Regions from separate parts of the Homo sapiens genome. Here regions 1, 3 and 4 are each linked to region 2. Evidence: fine-mapped expression QTL. A gene starts in region 2. Each other region holds a variant in brackets. All regions are shown on one strand. Distances are from middle to middle. Region 1 overlaps IMMP2L (inner mitochondrial membrane peptidase subunit 2). Region 2 holds the start of IMMP2L (inner mitochondrial membrane peptidase subunit 2). Region 3 overlaps IMMP2L (inner mitochondrial membrane peptidase subunit 2). Region 4 overlaps IMMP2L (inner mitochondrial membrane peptidase subunit 2).

Evidence for each region. PIP is the estimated chance that this variant, and not a neighbour inherited with it, causes the effect. A credible set is the group of variants that fine-mapping cannot tell apart.
Region 1: its variant is the best candidate, but not a certain one, in a credible set for the expression of IMMP2L in CD8 T cells (Kasela 2017, PIP 0.74).
Region 3: its variant is the best candidate, but not a certain one, in a credible set for the expression of IMMP2L in whole blood (INTERVAL, PIP 0.63).
Region 4: its variant is the best candidate, but not a certain one, in a credible set for the expression of IMMP2L in monocytes (CEDAR, PIP 0.86).

What each region holds. Positions count from the first base shown.
Region 1 is chr7:110,774,170-110,780,470 of GRCh38, reverse strand. All of the region lies in intron 5 of IMMP2L (inner mitochondrial membrane peptidase subunit 2), which reads left to right. Among named protein-coding and RNA genes, the nearest start is that of LRRN3, 310 kb to the left of the region's middle. The variant A/C (reference allele first, on the strand shown) is at 2,650.
Region 2 is chr7:111,560,024-111,566,324 of GRCh38, reverse strand. IMMP2L (inner mitochondrial membrane peptidase subunit 2) reads left to right here and starts at 3,833. Exons shown (of 6, transcript NM_032549.4): 1 at 3,833-4,474. RefSeq lists a silencer at 3,672-4,301.
Region 3 is chr7:111,404,926-111,411,226 of GRCh38, reverse strand. The region is part of intron 3 of IMMP2L (inner mitochondrial membrane peptidase subunit 2); the gene reads left to right. Among named protein-coding and RNA genes, the nearest start is that of IMMP2L, 150 kb to the left of the region's middle. The variant T/C (reference allele first, on the strand shown) is at 2,704.
Region 4 is chr7:111,213,276-111,219,576 of GRCh38, reverse strand. The region is part of intron 3 of IMMP2L (inner mitochondrial membrane peptidase subunit 2); the gene reads left to right. It overlaps LOC124901725 (a long non-coding RNA gene), which reads left to right. Exons shown (of 2, transcript XR_007060477.1): 1 at 1-6,301. Among named protein-coding and RNA genes, the nearest start is that of LRRN3, 130 kb to the right of the region's middle. The variant GAC/C (reference allele first, on the strand shown) is at 2,478.

The DNA of each region.
Region 1 (6,301 bases), 790 kb after region 2:
CAGTTTATATGTGGGAATTAGCTCTAGAATATTTGCAGAAATATAGAGACTTTGAGAAAATCTTATTTTCAAGTAATATGCTTGCCAGTGGTGAATTCTCAACTTTCTTTTCAGCACCAGTGTAAACCGTAACAGTTTGTTTTTTTTAACACAAAAACCTTTTTCTATCTAGTATATAGAGAACTAATCCAGAGAGTCAGCTTCTAATTCAATTATAGGAATTGAACAGTACACTTAATTTCCTGAATACCAATTTGGATCAACCTTGTTTTTGAAGCTTTGGTGCAAGCATTCAAATCATAATGAAGCAGAAAAAGGAACCAGGATATCTCAGCTCTTCCTCAAGAGATTCTTACCTAAGCGAGCCACATAAATAACTCATGTGTCAAAGATGATTTTAAAGACAGTACAAAAGGTAGAAAAATAAAATATTTTATTTAATTAACATTAGAAGATATGTTCGTGACAGTACCCGTGCTAAAAAGGTTGTAGCAATGGTTATTTCATTTATTTCTTTTATAGCCAACGTGTGTTTTCCTCTTTCTTTAAATCAAATTCAGAGTCCAGATCCTTTACTAACTTCCTAGTTAGGCAGTTCCCTAGGAACTTTACTCCTGTATTTTCCTTACTATTACAATAGTAACAATTGTTATCAGCATGGCACATGGATGGCTGAGTAAGATCCTGCCAGGAAAATAAATATTAACTCTTTTAACCTGGGTAATTTTAGTTAATCCCTGGTAGAATATGCTGCGGTGTCCTAGGGCCCTGCAAGGTGATAACACCCCTCTTAAATAGTTTTTCCTTGCTTACCGTAAAAGTTGGGAAGTACTAGATAAGCCATCTGTCTGTTCCTAGAAATACCACAAATCTGTGCATTGTAGACTGTTTTGCTACACATGCTGTTTGGAGTTTAAGAACTAGCTACACACAGTAGCACATCACCAAAAATTCCCCTGAGTCAGAAATGCCTTTCTCCCCCTGCCAGACCTCAGTTCAAGTCATGTTTTTCTCGATAACTAAACCTCCATTGTTCAAATTTAGTAAGAACAGTGCCTGCTGACCCAAATTTGCTTTGCCTCCATTGGTATTTTTTGATAACTTACTATATTTTTCAGGTATAGAAGATGTTTGAATGAAAAGACAATTATTTACACTCATTGCATATAAAAATAACTTTGATTTCATTTTATTTGCTTATAACAAAAGCTATAAGAATAACTAGTAGAATCTCTTCCTTTATTTGTTACTTATATATCAGACTGTTGTAAAGTGGACAAAATAAAATGACTCTTATGGCCAGTTTGTGCTGGGACTGGTTTGTATTGACTTCTGGGAGATGGTTATTAAGTTTTCAGTTTTTTGATTGATTGTTAAAATGTAGCCATGATTAAAAGTCAAATTTTATAAAATCGTTACTTATAATTAAAGGTAATAAATCCTCAAGACTTCGCTTTCTATTCATGTTACTGCATTTTACTACTCTACATGGTGGACAAAATGGTATAACACTGAGCACCACTTCCCAGCTGGATGTTCAATCATTTTAACCCGATGACTTGATTTTGGCCATGGTGAGAGAATTTGCACCACAAAATAGGCAGACACTACAAATCAGCTTCACCACACTGAAACCAAAGTGTTAAACATTTTCCAACACACCACTTATAGCTGAATAGTATTTGGAAAAAAAAATAGATGCTGTTACAGTTCTAGGGCCACATATCTAAAATGATGGTTCTTAAAGCACCTGTGTTTCTATCCTCTGCTTACCTTATTTTAAAATGTAATTTCTTTGGTTCCATCCTTATTCTTCTCAGTAAGGTTCTCTTGTCCAAGTAATTATTGTATACACTAAAATTTAAGAGCAGCTGTCCTAGAGCTTTCTGAAATATGGAGGAATAAAAATAAGTTTGCTCTATTTTAGTTTATTTTTACATTGAAAAAGAAGCTAAATTCTGGTGGTAATAGTAATGCTACAGCAATGAGAATAAAATCATTCACTAACTTACAACAGAAGTAAACGATGATGAATACGTGCATCATAAGAGATTATCAGCATCTTTATATCCCAGCACTTCTTCCAATAATGACATAGATGCTAAATACATGTTCCTTAAGTTGAAGACAAAATTCTGAATTGTTTGATATATTCTATTTCCTATATTTTGTTTAATACACTCTTTTCTTTAAGTTTTATATTTGGTCACATATGTAAAAACACAAAATTTAAAGTCTGTTTTTCTTATTAGATAGAAGTATTAAATAGAATTATTTAAAATATCTTAAAGCTTCTAGACTCTCTGTCCATTAGATTTCTTCACTGGAAAACTTTTGTATGACAAAATATTTTTCAGCTCCTATATTTTTGCCTTCATTTGGTGGCTCTAGAAGCCAGATGTTCATCTTAGTAAAGTTGACATAGTCTCATCTTCTTCCTAACCCAGCACTACCTTAAAAACTGCCAAGAAGTTTTAAGTGTGGGTGTTTCAGTAAAAAGGAATTCACTGCTGTCCATCAGTTAGAAAATGTTAGGTTTCCCTTTTTAGACTAACAGAACAATAAATGAAAAACAAGTCAAAGCTTTAGAACAGGAAAGACTTATTTTCAGTCTCTTAAAATAATTAATTAGATTTAAAATAAGACTGC[A/C]TATGTAACCACCAAACTATATCTTTTTTAACAGTTTATTTGGCGTTAAGATTTTCTCCCTTGTAACTGTCAATATGGAAATTTTGATATAGTGGATCTGTAAGCCACCACTATTGCAGATCCTCAGAATAACACATATTGTAGCAAAATTAATGCAGAATGACACTTCTGCCAAACATATTTATAGAATGAAGCTTATATAACATAAGACATTCTAGAAGCAGTGTTCATTCTCCAGCTCTGCAGCTTTCTCAGCAGTATTCCTCAATATTATCTTTGGTATAGAATATTCATATTAAATTAACGGGCTAAAGAAACTTCGATTTACGGGGTCTTATTGGAACAGCAAGGTTAAAACTAGGTTGTAGGGAAAAATATTACTGTAGGAAATATGCATTAGTAGCAGGTTTGCTTTCAAATTGTCCCGGATGACTACATCTTGCTTATTAATATTGCTACAAATCTATTTATCCCCCATGGAAACATGGCTCGTGGGGTTGTCATAGCTCAGAAGAGTTGTGTTCACATATTTATGAAGTTATTGCCTGTGTTTTCCAGATGTGGCCCAACCAAGTGATTTTCAGGCACACCTGCCGAGCTGGGCTCCTGTGGTAGTTGCACAAGAATGCAGTCTTAAGAAGTATGCATCCCTGAATGGTGTGCCAATGATAAGAAGGCCCATGGGAAAGGATTTGAGACATTCTCAGGAATTTCTAGTGATACTAATTTCTTACTACTTTTATCCTCCCACACCTTCCTTATGTTTAACACAGAGCTGCTGTCAAATTCATAGCCACACATATTAACAAACCCTGTCTTAGAAAGTTGCAGGAAGTTACCATGAAGTTTACATGGTCCCTAGTCCACACTTCAATGTGTAAAGAAACACAAAATCAGTGGGGAAGACAAACATTTTTTTAAAAATCAACCCTCTGCAATAAGATAGAATAAACACAATACCAGATACAGTGGGAGGTATAAAGTAAGAAGTAGTCTTTTCAACTTGAGGCATAAAGAGAAAGCTTGACCAAGAAGGTGACCCATGGGCTGAGTTTTATAGTCGTCAGGCTTTCAAAAGAAATATTGGTACTTTCTAGAAATTGAGGATAAGTGGAAGATATAGATCTCTTCCCCATTTTAAAAATGAAAACAAGTTATAATCTGAATACTGCCATACATTTATCAGTATGCAAGTGCAGTTAGTCAACAACTTGTTAATTCCTACTCAATTCAACAATTAGCTTTAAGGAAAAGCTACTCCAACAATTAGCTTTAAGGAAAACTTCACTCCCTAGAAGATGCAACAGTATTATAGTGGTAGGATCAGAAAGCCTTCTGCTCTGCTCAGGTGATGGTGTCCTCAGTTAAGGGGGCCACACAGCTAAAGCAAACTCGAGACCTAGTGTGCTATTTGACTATTGGGCTGCTGGACTCTCGTTCATGGAACGTAGAGATACCTGTATCATTTTTCTGGGAAACCGCCTCTCTTAAATACCACTCATTTTTATCAAAGATTGTTTTTAACATTACTTACGCGAATTAACTCACCCTGTTGTACAGAAATAATGGTGATATTTGAAGTGCATGACACAACCATCTCTGTAGTGTGGACTCTTGATTATGATCTTCTGATGCTAACTGCCCTGGAGTGGGAATTACTAATGACTTTGGTGTTCATTAAACATCCATAGGGTGTACATTAGAGATAATTTACACACATACACAGTCACTGTTTATTATGAATTATTTTATTCAAATTACGGATTATTTATTATTGGCAGGAGTATGATGTTTTAACTATATTTTGAGGTTTATAAGTTCCTTCCTCAATAAGTTATTTTTCATGCGTTTTTTTTTACATGTGTGTATTTTGCTTATTTTATGCATGTATTTTAAAATAGCAAGTTGACTTTGTTGCCTCTGGAGTTCCACAGAACCAGGGTAATGCGTGGGCATGGAATACTAACAAGGAGAAACAGCTTCCTGTTTAAGAACAATTCCCATGTTTTTTTTTTAGAGGAGAAAATTGAGAGCTGTTTGGTGGTTGCCATACTTTACATTTACTTTACTCTACATTTAATGTTTTGTTCTCCAAGTAAAGAAGAGTAACATTAGATGTAGCAAAAACAAAACATATTTTTATTCTTCAGAGCTTTCAATTATGAAAGAACGAAACTTGAAGATGAAAAGTATTTTGAGGGTTCCTCTAGGTATGGCTTTGAACTAAAGACAAATGTGTGTATTTGAAAGTTTAAAACATTCAACATTTTTTGTGTGTGTCTTGGAATACCAAAATAAAACCTCCATGGGCTGCTCTCTAGTCATGGTTTTCTCTACTAGTTTAAGTTTAGAAAACACTTCATACAAATGCCCTCTTCTTTAGGTTTCCAATTGTTATCAAGTATTTACTTGGAATTTAAATAGAATTTTTCTGTTTCGGGTGACACTACCCATAGCAATTGACTCAACTTACTATCAGTTCTATGTTTTGTAAATGTACACACTTTAAGCTACACATACAAGCTGTATTAGATCAGAACCACACACACACACACACACACACACACACACAGCTGACTTAAGCATTATGCACTCGTAAAATATTTGGAAAATGCAGAAAAGTAAAAGAAAACAGGCATGATCTCATTATCAAGAGTCAGTAAATTCTTGGGATGGTAATGTATTTCCTACCCATATTTTCTATATGCATAAATTTTTATTCCAAAATTGAAACAGCATATAAAGTTTTATATCTTCCATTTCACTTGCTACAAGTATTTTCCTATATCACTAAGTAATCATTGAAGGTGTGATTTTAATTGGCTGCATGGTATTCCATCCTATGGATTTGCCAGGATTGATTTATTTAACCAGTTCATTATTTTTTTACACTAAGGAGTTTTGTTTACAATTTAAGGATGTGTATGTGTGTATTTCTACACATAAGTACAGTCACGCATCACTAAATGCAGGAGATCATTATGAGAAATGAGTCCTTAGGCCTTTTTGTCATTGTGCAAACATTATATAGCACATGTACACAAACCTAGATGGTATACCTACTATACACCTAGGCTATACAGTATAGCCTGTTGCTCTTAGGCCACAAACCTGTATAGCATGTTACTGTTCTAAATACCGTAGGCACTTGTAACACAAGTGTAAGTACCTGTGCATCTAAACATAGAAAAGGTATAGCAAAAATATGGTATTATAATCAATGAAAATGCTACCATATATGCAGTCCATCATTGACTAAAATGTCATTATGTGGCACATAACTATATTTAAATTGAACTTCCTAAGATTTTAAAACAGATTTATATTATTTCATAATATGTGAAGGGTTTTTTGTTTCCTTCTGGATAAAAGTAGTAAAAAATACTGTTAAAGTAATATTTTTATAGATGACTATTTGCCTTGGGGCCAGGAAAAGCAGCTGGAGTTATTCACTTAGTACCATTTTTACATACTAACTTTGCCTTTTCCATGCTTGCTTGATGCGGTTTGCAGCACTGAAGAACAGTTTCAATTGCTAGCCAACCAGAGAGCATGATCAAACCAAACAAGTTCCCTGTTTCAGGAAAAACAGGTTTTAGGTAACTGAAGGTTTACCAGTTACTGATTCCACAATCTTCTCTGTAAAATATTT
Region 2 (6,301 bases):
AATATGAGTTTTAGCTTGAAATAAGTAAAGGGCTATAATTTCAGGTGTTAACAGAAGCCTGTGTGGAAATATATGACATTCAAACAAATGAAATGCAAAAGGCCATTTGGCAGTAATTCTCCAAGTGAGGTTTGAGAACACCTAGGGGTTACTGAAACCCTTCCCGGAGCTTTGTAAGGTCCTCTCTTTTTCAACTATGAATTCGTATGACAGTTAATTTTCTTCATATCTTAGGTATAACAACATATCACAACAGCCTGAATGCAGAGGCAGAATATGAGAATCCAGTGCTCTCCTTAAGCCAGATAATAAGAGATTTATAAAATGTTAAAAATGCCACTTTTCTCTAATTTTTTGGAAAAAAAGTAGTCATTATTTATAAAAATAACTTTTACAGTAACATGTAATGGGTTTAAATTAAGCAAACACATGTCTAACATTTTTCTATCTTAAATTTTAATACAGTAAATATGGACATATATAACCCACATAAACAACAGCTCTTTAAAGTTCTCAATCATTTTTAAGAATGTAAAGAGAACTTGAGATCAAAAAGTAGTTTGAGAACTGCTACTCTATGATACCTTCTATTATTTGCTTACCAATGGTAAGTATGTATAGATAGGAATATATTTTAATATCTATATTTGTGGAATCTGTAAACTTAATTATTTTAACTTTGTTTAAATATCTCTTTGACCATTAGATTTGATGCCTAACTATAGTTTAAATTTGTACCTTAGTTAGGACTTTATGATTCATTTTCCCCTGATGGTATTAACAACAAATAGAGGTCTGCTTTAATATATAAGGAGACAAGGCAAATATATTTGAACTAGATACATAAAGCCAAATATTCAGCTTAGAATTTAATTGATAAATTAGAATAAAATAGGATGCTCTAACTGCTGCTTCTTTTTCTCATAAACTTTTTTCTCCCAAAGATCAGTTTCAGGTTCAGAGCAAAATTGAGCAGGAAGTATAGGGTTCCTATATATTCCTGTACCCCACATCTGCACAGCCTCCCTGACTATGAATATCCTGTACCAGAGCAGTATATTTGTTACAATTGATGAACTTACATTGACATCATTATCACCCAAAGTTGAGATTTTATATTAAGGCTCCCTCTTTGGGTTGTATATTTTATGGGTTTGGACAAATGTATAATGACATGCATCACCATTATCATATCATACAGAATAGTTTCACTGCCCTAAAAATCTGTGCTTCATATCCCCCTCCTCTGTGACCTCTGGCAATCACTGATCTTTTTACTGTCTCCATATGTGATGGTTAATACTGAGTGTCAGCTTGAATGTATTGAAGGATAGAAAGTATTGATCCTGGGTGTGTCTATGAGGGTGTTGCCAAGGAGATTAACATTTGAGTCAGTGGGCTGGGAAAGGCAGACCCACCTTTAATTGGGTGGGCACCATCTAATAAGCTGCCAGTGAATATAAAGCAGGCAGAAAAACATGAAAAGGAGAGACTGGCCTAGTCTCTCAGCCTACAGCTTTCTCCTGTGCTGGACGCTTACTGCCCTCAAACATCGGATTCAAAGTTCTTCAATTTTGAGACTCGGACTGGCTCTCTTGCTCCTCAAGCTTGCAGACAGCCTATTGTGGGACTTTGTCATCATGTAAGTTAATACTTAATAAACTCCTCTTTATATTTATATGTCTATCCTATTGGTTCTGTCCCTCTAGGAAACCCTGACTAATATACCATAGTTCTGCCCTTTCCAGATATTAGCTTCTTTTTAAGTACACTTGATGAATCTTAGTGATAAAATCAGGCCAGACCTAGCAACTCTTTTTGTATGTTTATTGACTTCCCAATACAATAAAGGCCATAAACACCTGTCTTTGTTGTTTATTCACCTACATTCCATCCCAGACTGTCAGTTCCTAGTGACCAGGAGCTCCATTCAATTTGGGGTCATGGTACCAAATAGTTCTTGACTGCTATTTGATGAGGGTGGTCCTGTCACCTAAGTGCTCTTGAAATTAAGTCCTTAAGCACTGGCCGAAAAGAGCTTACTTTGCAGTAATTATTTCAGTGACAAGTAAGAAAAACTGGGACATATCCCCTTCACAGGAGAGCAATTTTGCTCTCTTTAGGAAACTCTTGGAATTTTAGTTATCAGGCTATTTAAGACCCTGAGTAGATTCTTAAACCTTTAGAATAAATTTTGAACCAAGAGTGCCAGAATGTCTGTTATTTACATTAGTATTAAGTGATCTGAAAGTGCACAGAGTAGTTTGGCAGTATCTAGAGGGAGAATAGAGACAGAAATAATGAAGATACAACTGGAGGAGTAAGAAAAGGAGAAAAAAAGTATTTTATGTCTGTTCAGTATTTCTAGGTGCCACTGCTGCTAAATGCCTGGGCTTCAGCCTAGGTTGGGTTGCTCCTAGCAAAGAAAACCAGTCCCTGAGACAACGAGTATTGCCAGGGAAGACAGGCTTTAATGCAGGTGATGCTGGCAGGGAGACCAGTCTCAAACATGTCTTAGGGAGACTAAAGTTAGGGCTTTCTATAGCAGGGAATTATGGAGGGGTAAGGAAGAGGAGTTTGTGAACAGGCAGCAGATGCACCTCATTGTCCAGATGTAGTGTTCTGGAAAGTTGCATTTCCTTGACACTATCTGGGAGGTCTGACAGTTTATCTGCTGAGAAAGGAACTCAGGTAAAATGCACGCAAGTTTCTCAAGTTTCACTTCGAAGGGAAAATTTGGCCGGTTTCGGTCTTCCCTTTCTATTTATCAATTCCTCAATCATGCGGAATCTGGTAGTTGATCTTTCTGGCTGCTTCACGTGAAGGAAGGGCATCTTGGGATGATATGGAATGAAAATATCGCACCTGTAATTGCAAGTACTTACGAGTACCTGGTTGGCATCCAGCTTGTTGGAGCACCATGATTTGGGTACTTTCATCAACATTTTAAACCACATTGAATTAGGATAATTAATAACATGGATAAGAAGGTTTCTTTGTAGGTTGTAATAACCCAGTTAAGAGTTTGTACCATTCGGCCGGGCGCAGTGGCTCACGCCTGTAATCCTAGCACTTTGGGAGGCCTAGGTGAGCGGATCACGAGGTCAGGAGATGGAGACCATCTTTGCTAACACGGTGAAATCCCATCTCTACTAAAAATACAAGAAGATTAGCCGGGCATGGTGGCGGGGGCCTGTAGTCCCGGCTACTAGGGAGGCTGAGGCAGGAGAATGGCGTGAACCCGGGAGGCGGAGATTGCAGTGTCGCTCTGGCGACAGAGCGAGACTCCGTCTCAGGAAAAAAAAAAAAAGAGTTTGTACCATTTGAGGGCAAAAGCTTCAGTATGAAATTCCCGTTTCTCTCAAGTAAACCGCCTGTCCTGTGTTACTCACTTTGTTTTACCTGGAGGCAGCAAAACTGAATAGTTTTCCTGAGTGCTCATGAGTAGGAAAAAATGAAATGAAGAGTTGCCCAGAGATCGCTAGTGAGGTGCTTTGCCACTACTGCCCTGTACTTAAGTAACTGTGAGGGTTCTCTGTTTCCTGGCTTCTAAAACAAGAGGAAGAGCTGAAGACACAGTTTCATAGACTTTTCGGCTCTTTATTGTAGTCTCCCCCATTAGTACGTTGCTGAGCTTAGGGCAAGTGCTCAATAATAGCTTGCTGAATTAGTGTTGTGTTTGATCCTTTCAGATCCACGCCGCATTTTGAGCCCGACCTGGGCGGGCGGTCCAGAGACCAGTTTTCCGCCGGGGGCGGAGCTTCGGGCGGCCAGCGCGCGACGGGGCAGCGGGGCGGAGCTTGCCGCCGGCGGAGGGCGGGGTCTGCGCGGGGACTTCCCCCGGGCTGAGCTGCGCAGCGGGTGCGGAGGGCGGGCGCCCGGCGTCCGGCGGCGGGTGGGGGGCTGTGAGGCTGGCAGGGGTCGGCGGGCGCGTAGCCGCCGACCCTTGGTGGTCTCTTGGGCTGGGGACCCTTCCCTGGGAGTCGGCCCCGGCCCCGGCGGGGCGGGCGTTGCCGGGAGGCGGAGGGGTGCGCGGCCGCGAGTCCTGCGTGATCGCGAGCATGTGTGCGTGCGCGTGTTTATCTGAGGCGCGTGCGGCGGCCACCCCAGCCTAGTCCTCTTCTTGGTGCCACTGGCTAACTAGGTTGAGAAACCGGCGCCACAGGCGGCACACCTGGCCCGGAGCTGGCCCGCTCCTCCCCGCCGAGCCGGCGCCCCAACAACGCGCCCTCTCCCAGTCCTCACAAAGGGGCCTAGTCCGGCCCCCGGCTCTGGCCGTGAGGGAGCGCTGTGGGGGCGCGCTGCCTTCTGCCTGGAAGTGTTGGGCAGGTGGTGGGAGAGCGTCAGGCTTGAACAACATGATTTTAAAGCACGTGTCTGTCTGTCGTTTTTTACTTTTAGGGTTTTGGCCAAATTGGGCGAGGGCACAAAATAACCACTTACCCCTTCTCACCGAGGAAGAGCGGGAGAAAGGGTAAGTAAGGAATGGTCAGGGGTGGAAGGACCTAGGACTTTATCCTGAGAGCGAGCGAGAGAGAGAAGGGCTAGATGTCCAGAACTGCTCGTGGGGAACTTGGGCCCAGATTCTACCTTTTCATCGGGAACTGGAGGACCCACCTTCAAAGTCACAGGCTCCAGGCCCCGGACTGTTTTCAGCCTCACACAGTCTATAGAGTTTAACAGCTTGGGCATGTGGATCCCTTTTAGCCCCTTGACCCGACAGAAAACTGCACTTCCCCTTTACCTGTTTTTACCTTGGAACATTGGTCCTCTCTAGTTGTCTGTCTCCGGCCCCTATCTTATTAGCCAGCTTTGACTAATCCCTGAGACCATAGCACTAAAGAATCCAGGTCCTGTTTGATAATGAACAGTAACCCCCCTAGGGATGTTTACATTTTAAAAGGGTACTCCTGAAAAAATCCTTTAGGACCCCAAAGCATAAAGTTAGTAACAAGATTACAAGTGTTGAAGTTCTTTGGGATCTCTCAAGCTTACAGAAGAAGATGTTTTGAGGGGAGAGAGATGACCAGGCTGGGCCTTTTTCTCTGGGCTTTCACTCTTGGTACCTCCTGGCAAGCATTCCATTCACTTTTGAAAAGTTGCCAAAAAGGACACTGAAGTTCTCTGAGGCTTACTGTGATTTTCAGTGTGGTCTATTTCATTGGTTCTTCTGTGGGACTTTTCTATCACTTCTTTAATACACTGCTTCCCTCTCCCCTGTATGGTGAAATGAAACACAGCTCCTCTCACAAGGTTGGGAGCTCATTATGCATCCTATATGTCACATATAAATAACCGTTTTAAATTAGTTGAAATTCAGATTAGCTACAAGCAGGAATGTAGTAAAACTGCATTCTTGGATTCTTACACAGGAAAAGTAGAATTGCCCTCTGTGATAGGCTGCCTATTCTGATACTGGCTGCCTGTGTCCTGAACGTGCCTATTTGTTTGTGCTCAAGTGATAGGTGACCACATAATTTATGGAAAACAGGAAGTGATTGTTTATTGATAATGGGTTCCTTCATTGATTCAATAGCTAATTCTCTCTTACCATGTGCTACGCACTTTTATCAGCACTTTGATAAAAGTAGGATGGTGAGAATGATGAGATTGTATTGGAGATGGCTGTTTTGGGGTAGGCCTTTCACCAGTTTTGTGGATTTTCTCAATAGTTACATGTTAATTTACAAGACTTTCCCTGTACTACTGATCATAGTGGTTTGCAGGTCTATACAGTGTTGTGGGAGAACAGAATTATTATTCCGCCTTTCTAGTACTTTCAGTAATAAACTTACAAGGATGGCTGACCTTGATGATTTGTTTCCTATAATGAATAATGTTATAGTCATTTTCCAGTGTACGAGTATAATAATTAGATGAGGATAACTTTTGTAGTTGTTCCATAAGAAGGACCTAATATTAGGAATCATGGAGAGTGTAAAGGATGATGTACTTAGAAAAATAAATTCGAAAGTAGACCATTTTTAACTTGCATGGGTTTCTGTGCATTTAGCCTCATTTAAAAGATCTAAGCTAGAATAGTTCTTTGTCTTTTTCTGGTTATAAGAGTAATAAAAAGTCAAAAAAAAGTTATTTAGAATTAAATCTGGGAGGGTATAAAAGGCAATAAGTGAGTTTCCTATGAGTCCACTTTCAGATGACCACTTAACAATTTGATACTTGTTTCTTCAACTTTTTGTTCCATATATACACATACTAAATATGCAGCTTAAGTATATGTTAAACATGTATACATCTTAACTGCGTATTATATATGGAACATATGTGGAACATAATACAT
Region 3 (6,301 bases), 160 kb after region 2:
GAATGTCATTCCATTTCCTTCCAGCTTGCATAATTTCTGACAAGACATGTGTTATTATATTTACTCCTATATTATGTGCCTTTTTTTCTGGGTACTTTTAAGATTTTTTTCTTTGTTACTTTTTTTTTTTTTTTTTAGCAATTTGATTATATCATGTCATGGTTTTTCTTTATTCTTCCTGGGCTTTGTTGAACTTCTTGGATTTGTAGGCTGATATTGTTTATTAAATTCAGAAAAATTGGGGGCATGTTTTCTTTAAATATTTTCTTGACCTCTTTCCTCTTATTTTAGTGCTTGAATTATAAAAATGTTAGATTGTTGTTGCCCTCACATGTTACCAAGACTGTTTATTTTTAAAATATTTTCTTCCTTCATACTTTGTTTAAAATAATTTATGTTGCTATGTTTCCAGCTTCACTGATATTTTCTGTAGTGTCTTATCTGCAACATTTTCGTATCAAAAATATTTTTAAATATTTAGACACTTAATTTGGTGATTCTCAATATGTTCTCTTTGTCTTCTCGTTATGTTCATATTTCCTTTAAGTCTTTAATCTTATTGAACTTATTTTAATAGCTGTTTTAAGGCCTTTTAATGTTAATTTTGTTATCTTTGTTAATTGGATCTGTTTTTATTGACTGATTTTTCTCCTAGTTGTGGGCAACATTTTCCTCCCTTTTATTTGTCTGTCTCTAATTTTTTTTTTCACTGTTAGGCATTGAATATTAGTATTTACATTGTTCAGCTGAATTTGAACAATGTACATACTAATTTACATTGGTTTTTCTTTTTGGTTACTAATGTAGTACTAATTACATTTTGGTTTTTCTTTTAAATGGTCTCTCTCCCCACCACCCTCCACTTTTTTGGTAGGCATTTAAATTATTTGCAGATCAGCCTGCTCATTTCAAGGCTATTTTTGTGCTTTTCAAGGATGATCTAGGGTAATCTTTAGAGCTAGTTTAGACTCACTACTAAGGCATGAGCTTTCTGGAGTCTCTACAGAATACTCTGGGTATTCAACAACAAGGGCTCTTCATTCTTGGAATTGTTCACTTTATAACTCCCCTGAAATTGATCTTTTCCTGCTATTTTTCACTTGGCTGCTTGGAGTTTCACCCTATGCAGCACAGATTCCTATTCAAAGCCTCATGAGTATTCTTATGCCAATCTCTGCATAGCGTTCTTTTTATCTTTAATATGTCCCACAAATTCCAGCCATCCCAGTGTCTTCAAACTCTAATCTGTTTCTCAACTTATTTGGACCATGAGGCTCTGAGTTCCCCATTCTTATACCACAGTTTGGACTTTGCATCTAGGTTGGAATAGGGGCAGTCTTAGATATCACCTGATTTGTTTCCCTTTTGTTAATAATCACATGCCTCTTCTGCCATTGGTCCACTATCTGAAATAGCTTTATATATTTTGTCCACTTTTCTAGTTATGTATAGGATTTTGAGGGCAATCCTGTAGAAGTTCAGCATAATTATTTGTTTCACTTAAATTTAATGAATGTAATTTTTCTAAATCTGAATATTGAATCTGGCTACTCTTAGAAGCAAGCTTTATGTTACTGTATGTTTTTATTTTCAGAAATTTCAAATCTTTATATAGAGACCATAAGATTATTTAACCAAGGTTATACTGATGTCTTAAAAAAAACTCTCAGGTTTTTCAGAAGATACCCTTTAGGTAATTTAATTTTACTTGCATGTATGTGCAAGTTGGTGATGTACATGTACAGCTTCTTTTAAAAATGGATTGGGACCTAACAATGAAAACATGCAGTTGTAATGGTTCTTACTGTAGTGCATGTTGAATTATGAGAGTTACTCATGGTTATATGTTATCCATGGGGACTTTTAATATGCTTGGTTATACAGATCTGCAAATTTTTAGCTGTGGGCTGATAACCATATTGAATCATAAATTTATTACTGATGCATTGCTTTCTAGGTGGACGTTAAATTTTAAGAGAATTAAGGGTAGGAATTGGCTTTCTATTATGAAATGGTTTCTTCAACTTTAAATGGATGTCTTAAATGTAAATATTACTAGTTTGTGTAATCAATACACAAAAACATTATTTGGAACAAAAATTAATTACAAAGTTTCTTAAGAATAATAGAGGAAATGCAAAATATTTCTAAATAAAAACAATTTAACTGACAGAAGCTTGTCAGCACTTAGCAACATTTATTTTCAATTACAAATGGTACTTTTTATCACCATTTTTATTCTAGCTTTGTATCAATATATCATCTAGACAGAAAGTGCTGATGTAGGTTTTTCAGTGCTAGTCTGCAAAGGAATTGAAGGTGAATGTGGTTTTAGTTACATATCTTCCTTCCTCTACATCTGTGCTTTGTGTTTTATTAGACTGCTTAAAATACATTGTTGTCAAATATCTAAATGTCAGGCTTGCTGATCATTTATATGCCTTCATATTTAAAAAAAATATTAACTACATACAATGTGGTTATCAGCTGTCTTTTCTAGGGGTATCTGTAAATTTGAGAGTGTTTTATTGGTAGATACATGAGAAGTTAGTATCTCCAAGTATTTCATTCATATTGGCTTACTGCCATGTGAAATTTATTACTGAACTTTCATATGAAAAAGATAAAACACACTGTCATCTCATCTTGTCCCATTGTACATTTCAGTTACAGGAACAAAATGATATGCTTGCAGTTCTGTGA[T/C]ATGATGCACTAGAAAAATCTTTATTATAGAGATTGTGTGACTTAGAGTTTGTGTGTGTGTTTATGCGTGACTGTTGCAGAATAAAGTTGTATTTATGTGTACCCATAGTGATATTTCTGTGTCTGTATGAACATAGTGATTCAGTAGATTAGATCATGAGCATTCTTTATATTTGTCTACAGTAATTAAGTCTCTCACTGAATATGCACCAAGTACTGGCCAAGCTGTCTTATAATAAATATTATACTTATTACTTGTTTCAATGGCTATACAGATAATCAGAAGTGTTGCAAGTTGGTCACTTATTGGAAAATCTTAAATACGCTACTTACAGGGAACTTACCATGTATGTACACATATGGTATTATCTTCTACTTTTTTGGTTTGTTTTAGATAAGTGCTGTTGCTTAGCATTTAAGGTAGAATGTTTTATTTTTATAAGTTAATTAATATATATTTAGTTCTATGACCTTGAGCATGCTATTTAATTTTCCCATGCCTGAGTTATCTCATCTCTGAAATAGGAATAAAATAGTTCCTGCTTCGTAGGATTGTGTTGAAGATTAAATGAGTTAATACAAATGAAGCACTCAGAACAATTCTTGAACCTAAGCAAATTTTCAGTGAGTAGTAGTTATTGTCACCATTATTATTAGTCAATTTAAGAATCAGCCAGTAATATTTATTTTTCTTTTTTATGTCTTTATTTATATGTAATTTACATTTCATAAAATTCACTCATGCTAAGTATAGAAATTGATGATATAGTGAATGTATAGGGTTGTACAGCCATCACTGTAATCCAATTTTGGAATGTTTTAATCATCCTGAAAATACTCCCCATGGCCATTTGCACTTACTGTTATTTCTTACCCCTACCTCCAGGCAACCAGTAATCTATTTTGTATTTCTATTGATTTTCCCCTTCTGGATATTTCATTTAAAAAGAATCACACAATAAATGGTCTTTTGTGTTGGCTTCTTTCCCTGAGTGTAATGTTTCTGAGGTTCATCCATGTTACAGTATGTATCTGTATTTTGTTCTTTTTTTTGCTGAATATTATTTTTTGTTTAGATGCACCTCATTTTGTTAATCCACACACCATTTGCTAGACTTTTATGTTGTGTTGCTTTTAGGTATTATGAATAATACCATGAATATGCTTTTATAATTCTTTCCGTAGATATATGTTTTCATGTCTCTTAGGCAGATTTCTAGGTATGGTATTGCTGAGTTGTGTGATATATTTATGTTTAACTTTTGAAGAGACTGCCAAACCTGTTTTCCGGAGCTGCTGTGTGTACCATGTTACATTCCCATGAGCAGTGTATGAGGGTTCTATTTTCCCCACAACCTCACCAACATTTGTTATTTTTTATCTTTTTTGATTTTAGCTATCCTAGTGTGTGTAAAGTAGTATCTTATTTTGGATTTAATTTGCATTTCCCTAAAACACATATTTATGTGTCTTACTCAAGGTTACACCCCAACTCTGGGGATACTGGGAATTTCATTATGTATATGTCGGCTCAAAGACCCTGTCTCTTTTCCTCATGTGGGATAATTTTCAAAAACTATACCCACTGCAGAGGTTCCTGTGGCTTAAACCTCTGTTAGAACCACACTGCAATTCAGCTTCTTTCTCTGCCTGTCCTGCTTCCTTCACTCCCTTTCAGATGTTGTTCCTAAGGGCACTCCCCAAAATGCATGCAAATCCCAGAATCTTAGAGCCTGTTTTCTAGGGAATCCACCTATTAACAGGGATATAGAATTGATAGGAGTCACTAATTTAGAGAGAGTGATTAAGGAAGACCTCTAACTTGAGGTAATCTTTGATCAGAGACCTGAATAAAATGAGGAATTAAACCACCTAGATAAGTTGGGGGAAACTTTTCCAGACAGAAGAGCAAATGCAAAGATCTAAGGCAGGACCATGCTTGACAGTAAAAGACCATGTGGGGAGTGACCAGAGTCAGTAAGAGGGAGGAAAGGTAGAATATAACAAGAGGCCACACCTTGCATGGCTTTTGAAGTGTTTTCAGTAATGGAATTCCATGATCACTCTAGATGCTCTGTAAAAATTGAGTGTAAGGGACCAAGAACAGAAATAGGGACCCAGTAAGGAGGCTACTACAATAGTCCAGGTGAAAATGGTTGTGACTTGAGTTAGGGTGGTAGCATTGGAGTGGCTGAGAAGTGGCCAGATTCTGGATATATTTTAAAGATGTACTTTTTTGATGGCTGGGATATGGAGTATGAGAGAAATAGAGGAATCAAGGAGGATTCTGAAGTTTTTGGCCTAAGCAATTGGATGAATGGAAATTGTGTATTGAGATACAAGAGGCAAAGGAGTGGCAGGGGTGGTAGAAAGCAAATTTTACCTTTTAGACATGTTAAATTTGTATGCCTATAAGACATCCAAATATAATGTAGAGAAGTTGTCATTCATATCTGAGTCAGGACTGAAGATAGAATTTGGGTAATTTTCAGGATATACATTATATTTAAAGCTATGCACCTTAGTGAGATCACCTAGACAGAGATTGGCAATTTTTCTTCTGTAAAGGATCAGAAGCACTATCTAGTCCTTGTTGCAGCTATTCAATTTTTACCTTGTATTGTGAAAGGAGCTGTAGACAATAATTAAGAAAATGGGTGTGGCTGCGTTCCAATAAAACTTTATTTATAAAAATTAATAGGTGGTAAGCTACATTTGGTCTGCAGGTAGAGTTTACTGACCTGTGACCTAGACAGTGAATAGAGAAAGACAAAAGTCCTATACCCCTCCTAGGGTAGTCCAACACTTAGAGGTTAGGAATAATGGGAGTCAGGAAAATGAGAAGGAGCAGCCAGTGACCTAGGAGGGAAACTCAGAGAATGTGATTAGGTTATCATTTATGTTTCTCCTCACTTCAACTATGTTTTTAAGTGCATAAATAATTCATGTAAAAATCCAAACAGATAATACTCTAATCTTTTATAATCTTACACATATTGTTTCTCTGATATTATACTTTGATATTCTTTAGAATTTATGTGTATTACAATATAAAATGTTCATAACTTTTTAGAGATTTGAGTGTGAAGTTCTAATAATAATTTTTAGTGCATTTTTTTCAAATATGCTATTTTTAAACTATAATGTGTGGGGTTATTTGTTAAGATGATGTAGTTGGAATTTTCTGTTCCTGAACTTTTAGCTGGTCTCTGTGTTCGTGGTGCCTGTATACTTGGGAGCAGTAAAAGCAGAGAAAGAGAGTTCAGAGATAACAGATAAATCCTTTAAATTTGAGTATTTCCATTTCTTGAGACCTTTGAAATTTTTATAAAAGTACACCATTGCACATTGTCTAGTAAGTAACTAAAAATGAGCTGTGTAAGCACATGTGAAACTCACTAAACCATAGTCGGTAAAAGGAGTTACAGACTTGTAATGTCTTAGCTCAGAAAGATAACTGATTGTATGTTACCAGAAGTCTTGGTTAAATTTGTACTGTATTTAATTTGTAGAACTGTAGTTCTAGCAATCTACACCTGGTGTAATTTTTATTTTTCTGACGTTGCTATAAGTAACAGATGCAAGGTGAAGTAGGAAT
Region 4 (6,301 bases), 350 kb after region 2:
CAAAAATAGAGACTCACTTAATTTGAATAATATGTGAATTAATTTTATGATATCATTAGAGCTAATTTTTATGTTTAGCTAGCCCTGTTTACTTAAAATTTATCCACTGGCAAATACAATAGCTCAAACCAATGCAGAAATATTAATACCTGCATTATTTGTTTAAAATTTAGGGTCCTAGGCCTTATTTCCAGAGATTCTGGTTTATTAGGTCTTGGGAACAGTCTGAACATCAGCATATTGATCATCACAGGTGGTCTTAGGATTACACTTTTAGAAATAGTGCCTCAAACAAAGAAAAAAAGTTATGACTTTACTGTATTTGGGTCATTATTCTAGATTTCAAAAAGAGGCTTTTAAAATTTTTTAGTAATTTGGCATTTCAAAGTAGAGTAAGTTAGAAATTTCCATGTAAAAATAACTTGTGATGGTTAACAGCTAAACAGCTAAACCCAAATAGTATAACATACATCAATAGTTGATTTTGTTAGCCACGTAGTCTTTTTCTTTCTAGCTTAATACCTCTATTTCATGCCCTGTTTTCACTCCTTCACAAGTTTTAGTGGCTCAACATAGATGAATTTTGATCTTGTATAGATATTCTAAGTTGTGGATGTATTTGTTATTTCATATTTTAAGCAGAACTCTGGGATTTTAAGAAAAGTATTTATTATTTTGTATTAGAAGAGGCAGGCCCTTGATTTTCAAGATTTATTATACTTTTGTAATAACTGGCTGTAGTCAGGGGCTCAGATATCAGAACTGTTCATGGGGAAAGTAATTTCCACTGATGTCATTTCTAACCAAGTGAGTGACATTGATGTACGTAGCCCTGGCCTATAACTGGTCAGCCTGAAATAATTAATCAGAAAAAACAACTATTTTAGTACCTGACTGAATTAAAGCCTTATTGGTAATGAACTAGGTTAATTGGAGTTCTCCCATCTCGAGACTTTCACAACTGTCTTTAGGTTAACGAAAATATTTTAGATCTAGCTGAGTGTATAGCCTTGGATATTTCTGTGATTTCTTTTAAGATCATATGGGGAACGTTTTATTTACGTTGCCTGGGGTTTATTGGTGCATTTCTCTTTAACATTGTAATGGGAAAAAAAAAACTGATAAAACTTTTGAAAATATGGTGAAAGTTTCCACTTGTGTTTTATTAAATGTAGGCGATACAACATAATAGCATAGGTACATGCATTCTTTATTTGCAGCTCTTTCAGGAGGAAGACATTAATTTTCATAAGAAATATGACATTTATAAGAATTGAAAAGTTTAAAAGGAAGTGCACAGAAATTGGTAAGACTTGTAAAACCTTGGTTTACCAGGTCTGGTGATGTCTTGCATAAGAAAACTTCAGAACAGAGCAGATACTTGGGACACTTGTTTATATTTTGCTATTTGTTTACTAAGACCATAAATGCTAAGCTAAACAATTCATATATAGGGAAAGAGTGAATAAAGAGAGAAGATTTTATTATTTTCCTTAGGATTCAAATTTTCTGTCCATCATAGAATCCTTTGATTTTTACTTCTTATGAAAGCACAAAAAGGCAATAGCATTTTCCGTAGCTCATTATTTTGAAAAGAAAAGTGAAGAACATGAAAATACTGCTCCTGTTGATTCTAACACCCACCTCCAGAGAGATACCGAAGACTTTCAATTCATAGTAGAGATCTAATCTTGCCAAAAATACTAAACTTAATTTTTATATTAAAAATAAGATTTCTAGAATATATAGGGAAGATGATTGATAGTTATTTCATGTCAGGCAGTTTTTCTTCCTTGTATTAGAATTTCATTCATATTGATTATTGTTTAGTATCATAATTTTGAGGTAAAGGATTACCTGAAACTATTGTAATTTGCTTCTAATCAGAATATAAAATATACTAGTTTTGTTATTGTTTATAAAAGATAAAGTAAAGGAGATTGGATAATTCTGTCACAATTCTCTTTCTGACTCAACGGACGTTATTAGCTGTACTCAGCATTGATATCCCTTTATTCCTTTGCTTACAGTATATCCTAGTTTCTTCATGTAGCTACTCTGCTCTGCTGTAGGCTAAATGCTTCAGGAGAAGCTGACCCTAATCCAAGCTCCATGAGTGGGCTTTATTAGTCTAAGGTGAACACCATCTTTCTTACCACTTCTTGTTTCATGTGAAAAGGGTCAGGTACCCACTTAAGCGGACTGATATTAGGAGTAGTGCTGGTGCCTCCCTGGACAGGTCTTCCTTTATTCTCACTGGGAGAGTTTCTTGAATTGATTCTCCTTCTATTCTGCTAGGCTCCTGGCCACCATTCTAACACCAAAAGGAGAGCTAGCTTTAAGATAAAGAATTACTACAGATTGCAGAACAGAGAAAAATATTCCTAACCAGGAACATTTTAACTCCACTGCATATTGTGTGTGTGTGTGTGTGTGTGTGTGTGTGTGTGAGAGAGAGAGAGAGAGAGAGAGAGAGA[GAC/C]GGAGGGAGAGAGAGAGAGATCAGAAGATGAGGAATGTCTTTGATAAGAATTTACACTGGCAATTTTTTTTCCAGAAAATTCCAAAGGGAAAATTAAAATGTGCCATTTAGGGTTTTATTTCAAGTATTTATATGGGCAAAATCACTTGCATGCATTTGATAAAATGTCTCTTTTTCTTTTCCCCCACCCTTCAAAGGTGTTATTTTATCCACTGCAAGACTTCAAAATGGTTATGTGATTGACTGAATATAGTCATAAAGCCAAGCCTTCTGAAGTTGAAGGGCTTATTGCCTTAAATGTTATTCTTTTGATTATATGGGTAGTCTATTTGCATTTGTTAGTGCCTCATATGATATAATTGGATGTCTCATCTTTTGCCAAAAATGTTAGAATCTGAGAAACCATTTATTTGAAAATTCCACTTTAAGGGTACAAAATTCAGGTAGACAGGAGGAATATGGTATTTCTTTTTAGTTCTATTGCACAGTGTGGTGAATATAATTAATAATAGAGTACTGTACATTTTAAAATTGCTAAGAGAATAAATTTCAGATGTTCTCTCCACAAAACAATGGAAATATTTGAGGTGATGGATGTGTTAACAAGCTTGACTTTATTATTCTACATTGTATTCATAAATCATAACATCACTTTGTACGCCATAAATTTATGCAGTCATAAATTGACAATTTGTGATAAAAATATATTCCAAAACTAAAATTCAAAGCAAGTTTAAGATGTGGAATGTATCTTGAACTATTCCCTCTTTTTCTAGGAAAGAAATAAAATACTGATATAGTTAATCCTTCATCTGTTTCTTGCTATCCAGCTTGACAGGGAACATTTTAAAACAGTGCTCTTGAGAAGAGACTATCTCAATGAATATCTACTTGGGACCTCCTCAAAGGAAAGTGAGATGACAAAATTGGTGATGTATGTGACTCCATACTCTAGTGACAGAGAAGATAATTACGGTGAGGTATCTGGAATGATCCAAAGGCAAATTGGAATTTTCCAAGAGAGAATGAAGATGTATTTGTGAAGAGAAAGACAGTTGGAAGGAAATGTTATTTTAGTATATATTCTGGCCATACATGACTTAACAAGTATGAATTTCAAGAGGACAATAAAAGAGAAATTATAGTAATCAAGATAGGAAATGATTAAAGAATGGGAGAAAATTTTAGCTGAGAGGGAATGTGAAGATTAAATACAAATTCTAACAGCCTGGTTGACAAGTTGATGAGCACATTTACAGATGAGAAATGAAGAAGGAACAAAAGAATGACTTCAACAGTTTTGTGTAAGAGCCAGCCTCAGGTTTATATTAGAAAGAATGAAAGTAGAATTTGAGCAAAGAAGTTTCTGAAAGAGGAGAAAATTAATGTTTTGCCACAGTTTCCTTCTAAAGCTTACCCAATGATTGACATACTTTTCTTTTTTAAGTGCCTATTTGTGGGTGATCTGATACTTTTTGTATCTAACCTTTCTTTTATTATTGAAAGAAATAAGACAAAATTCAGGAAGGAGAGAATGTATATCTTTTTTGAAATTAGACTAAATGGGTGCCTTCCATGTTTTGCCTGTTATGTGTAGTAAATTTGATCTTGTAATATAAAAGTAGCTATATTCAAATAGGCTAGAATATCTTCATGATTCTTGTTTGGGAAAAATAATTGTTACTTATTTGCTAGCTGTATTAACTGTGCAGAAGCTGGAAAAACATTGGATTTTGGGTCAGATTCAGATTCGAGTGTAATACTGTTACTTAGCAACTTTTTGATTCTGAGTAAGACACTTCTTCAGGCAGAAGGGTATGATCATAAGTATGCATGGGAGGCTCACCAATGAATAGAATGGCTCATGTAGATGATCTGGAAAGTACTTACAGTGCTTAGGAAAGAGTACTTCTATTTTTGTTTTTGTTTTTTTCTTGTACATATATAATGTCTCTGTGTGGTTGCAACCATTGACACTTTTAACCAATGGTAAATATAAGGAGTGATGGGTACTATGGCAAACTGGTATCTGAATTCACAGTTTAAAGTATGTAGATTGCGGTGATATGTGGGAATGAGGGCATAGTTTTGCAAGAACTGGTTTTTGATTTTTGTTTTTCTTTCTAAGGAGGAGACTTAAGTTTGGAGTTTTTCTGTGAAGTTTTTCATTTATACATGTAAGCATTTCATCAGAAAACAATTTTGCTGCGCTGGTATGTGTCAAACAAAACAAGTCTTTGAGCCAGATCTGGCCTGTGGCTGTATTTTGAATGTTCTACTTTAATCTCTATCTCTCTCTCTTTTTTTTTTTTACATGGTTATGGAGCTCTGGATAATCTACACAGTATGTACTAGAGTTTGTTTAAATGTTGAACAAGATGCTGAACATTCTTAATATCATATATTTTATTTAGGTGAGATTTAACATAAATTTGAAAAAAAATTGGCCAGGCATGGTGGCTCACACCTGTAATCCCTGCACTTTGGGAGGCTGAGGCAGGTGGATCACCTGAGGTCAGAAGTTTGAGACCAGCCTGGCCAACGTGTTGAAACCCTGTCTCTACTACATTAAAAAAAAAAAAAAAAAAAAAAACAGATTTGGTGGCAGGTGCCTGTAATTCCAGCTACTAGGGAGGCCGAGGCAGGAGAATCACTTGAACCCAGGAGGCGGAGGTTGTAGTGAGCAGAGATCATGCCACTGCACTCCAGCCTGGGTGACAGAGTGAGAGACCCTGTCTCAAAAAAAAAAAAAAAAAAAAAAAAAAAGAAGAAAAATTACTTTGTCATTCATTCACTGGATTAAAAACAAATTTGCTAAGAGGATACATTTAATTAAAGCATAGAAGGACTCAAAGTGATTGATTTTATTTCTCTAATTTTAGTAAGATATAAACATGAAATTTGTTTTGAGTGTTTCACACAGATTTTCTAAATAAGCAAGAGAAGATACCCTTGGAAGGGACTGGATAGTAAAAGGGAACAGATGATGAAGTTTTATAATTTTTTTCAAGATAAAATCATTACCTGCCTATTTAATTGATTTATTGTGTATTAAAAATATATTTCTACCCTCAAGTTTACCAAAGTTAACCATCATATATTTTACATTAGAAATGTATGAATACTTATAGCTCTTCACTATTCATGTGACTTGGGTCTTATTTTTTTAAATCACCTTTTATCTTAGATACAGGGGGTACATTTGTAGGACTGTCACATGAACAAGGCAAAGAGGAACTTTATTGAGCAACAGAACAGCTCCGAGGAGACCCACGTTGGATAGCTCTCCGCAGGCAGGTCATTCCTTCAAATGTTCAGCGCTCATTAGATAGGAGACTCTGGTGTGGGTAGCTCCTCTCCACAACTGGTCATACTGTCATCTCTTTAGCTCTCAGCAGAGAGGAGAGCCTGGAATGGGTAACTCCTCCCTACAGCTAGTGGTTCCATCGATTTCTTGAGTCTGGGTGAGTCTGGGGTTCTTGTGGGCCTCAGAGGGGAGGAAGTGTGCACCAGTTTGTCCAAGGGTGGCCATAGGCAGGGCTGGAAGGTACCACAAGTTCCCATTCTGGTTTGCACGACCAGCAGCCTGGCCCCTGGAGGGCTTCAGGCCCTCCCCAGCTTGAAGGTGGGGCCTTGCTAGGGACCCACCCCCTTCCACTCAGGAGCGCGTCTGCCTCCTGCCACAGTTCATGGCACCCAGGCTGTTTGTGCTGTGGGGTGCCTGCAGGCCAGCACCAAGCTGCCTTCAGGCCCCACTCAGCCTCCCTCCCATGCTCATTGGCACCCAAAGCCTGGAGGGGGCTGAGGCAGCAGGGTGCTGGT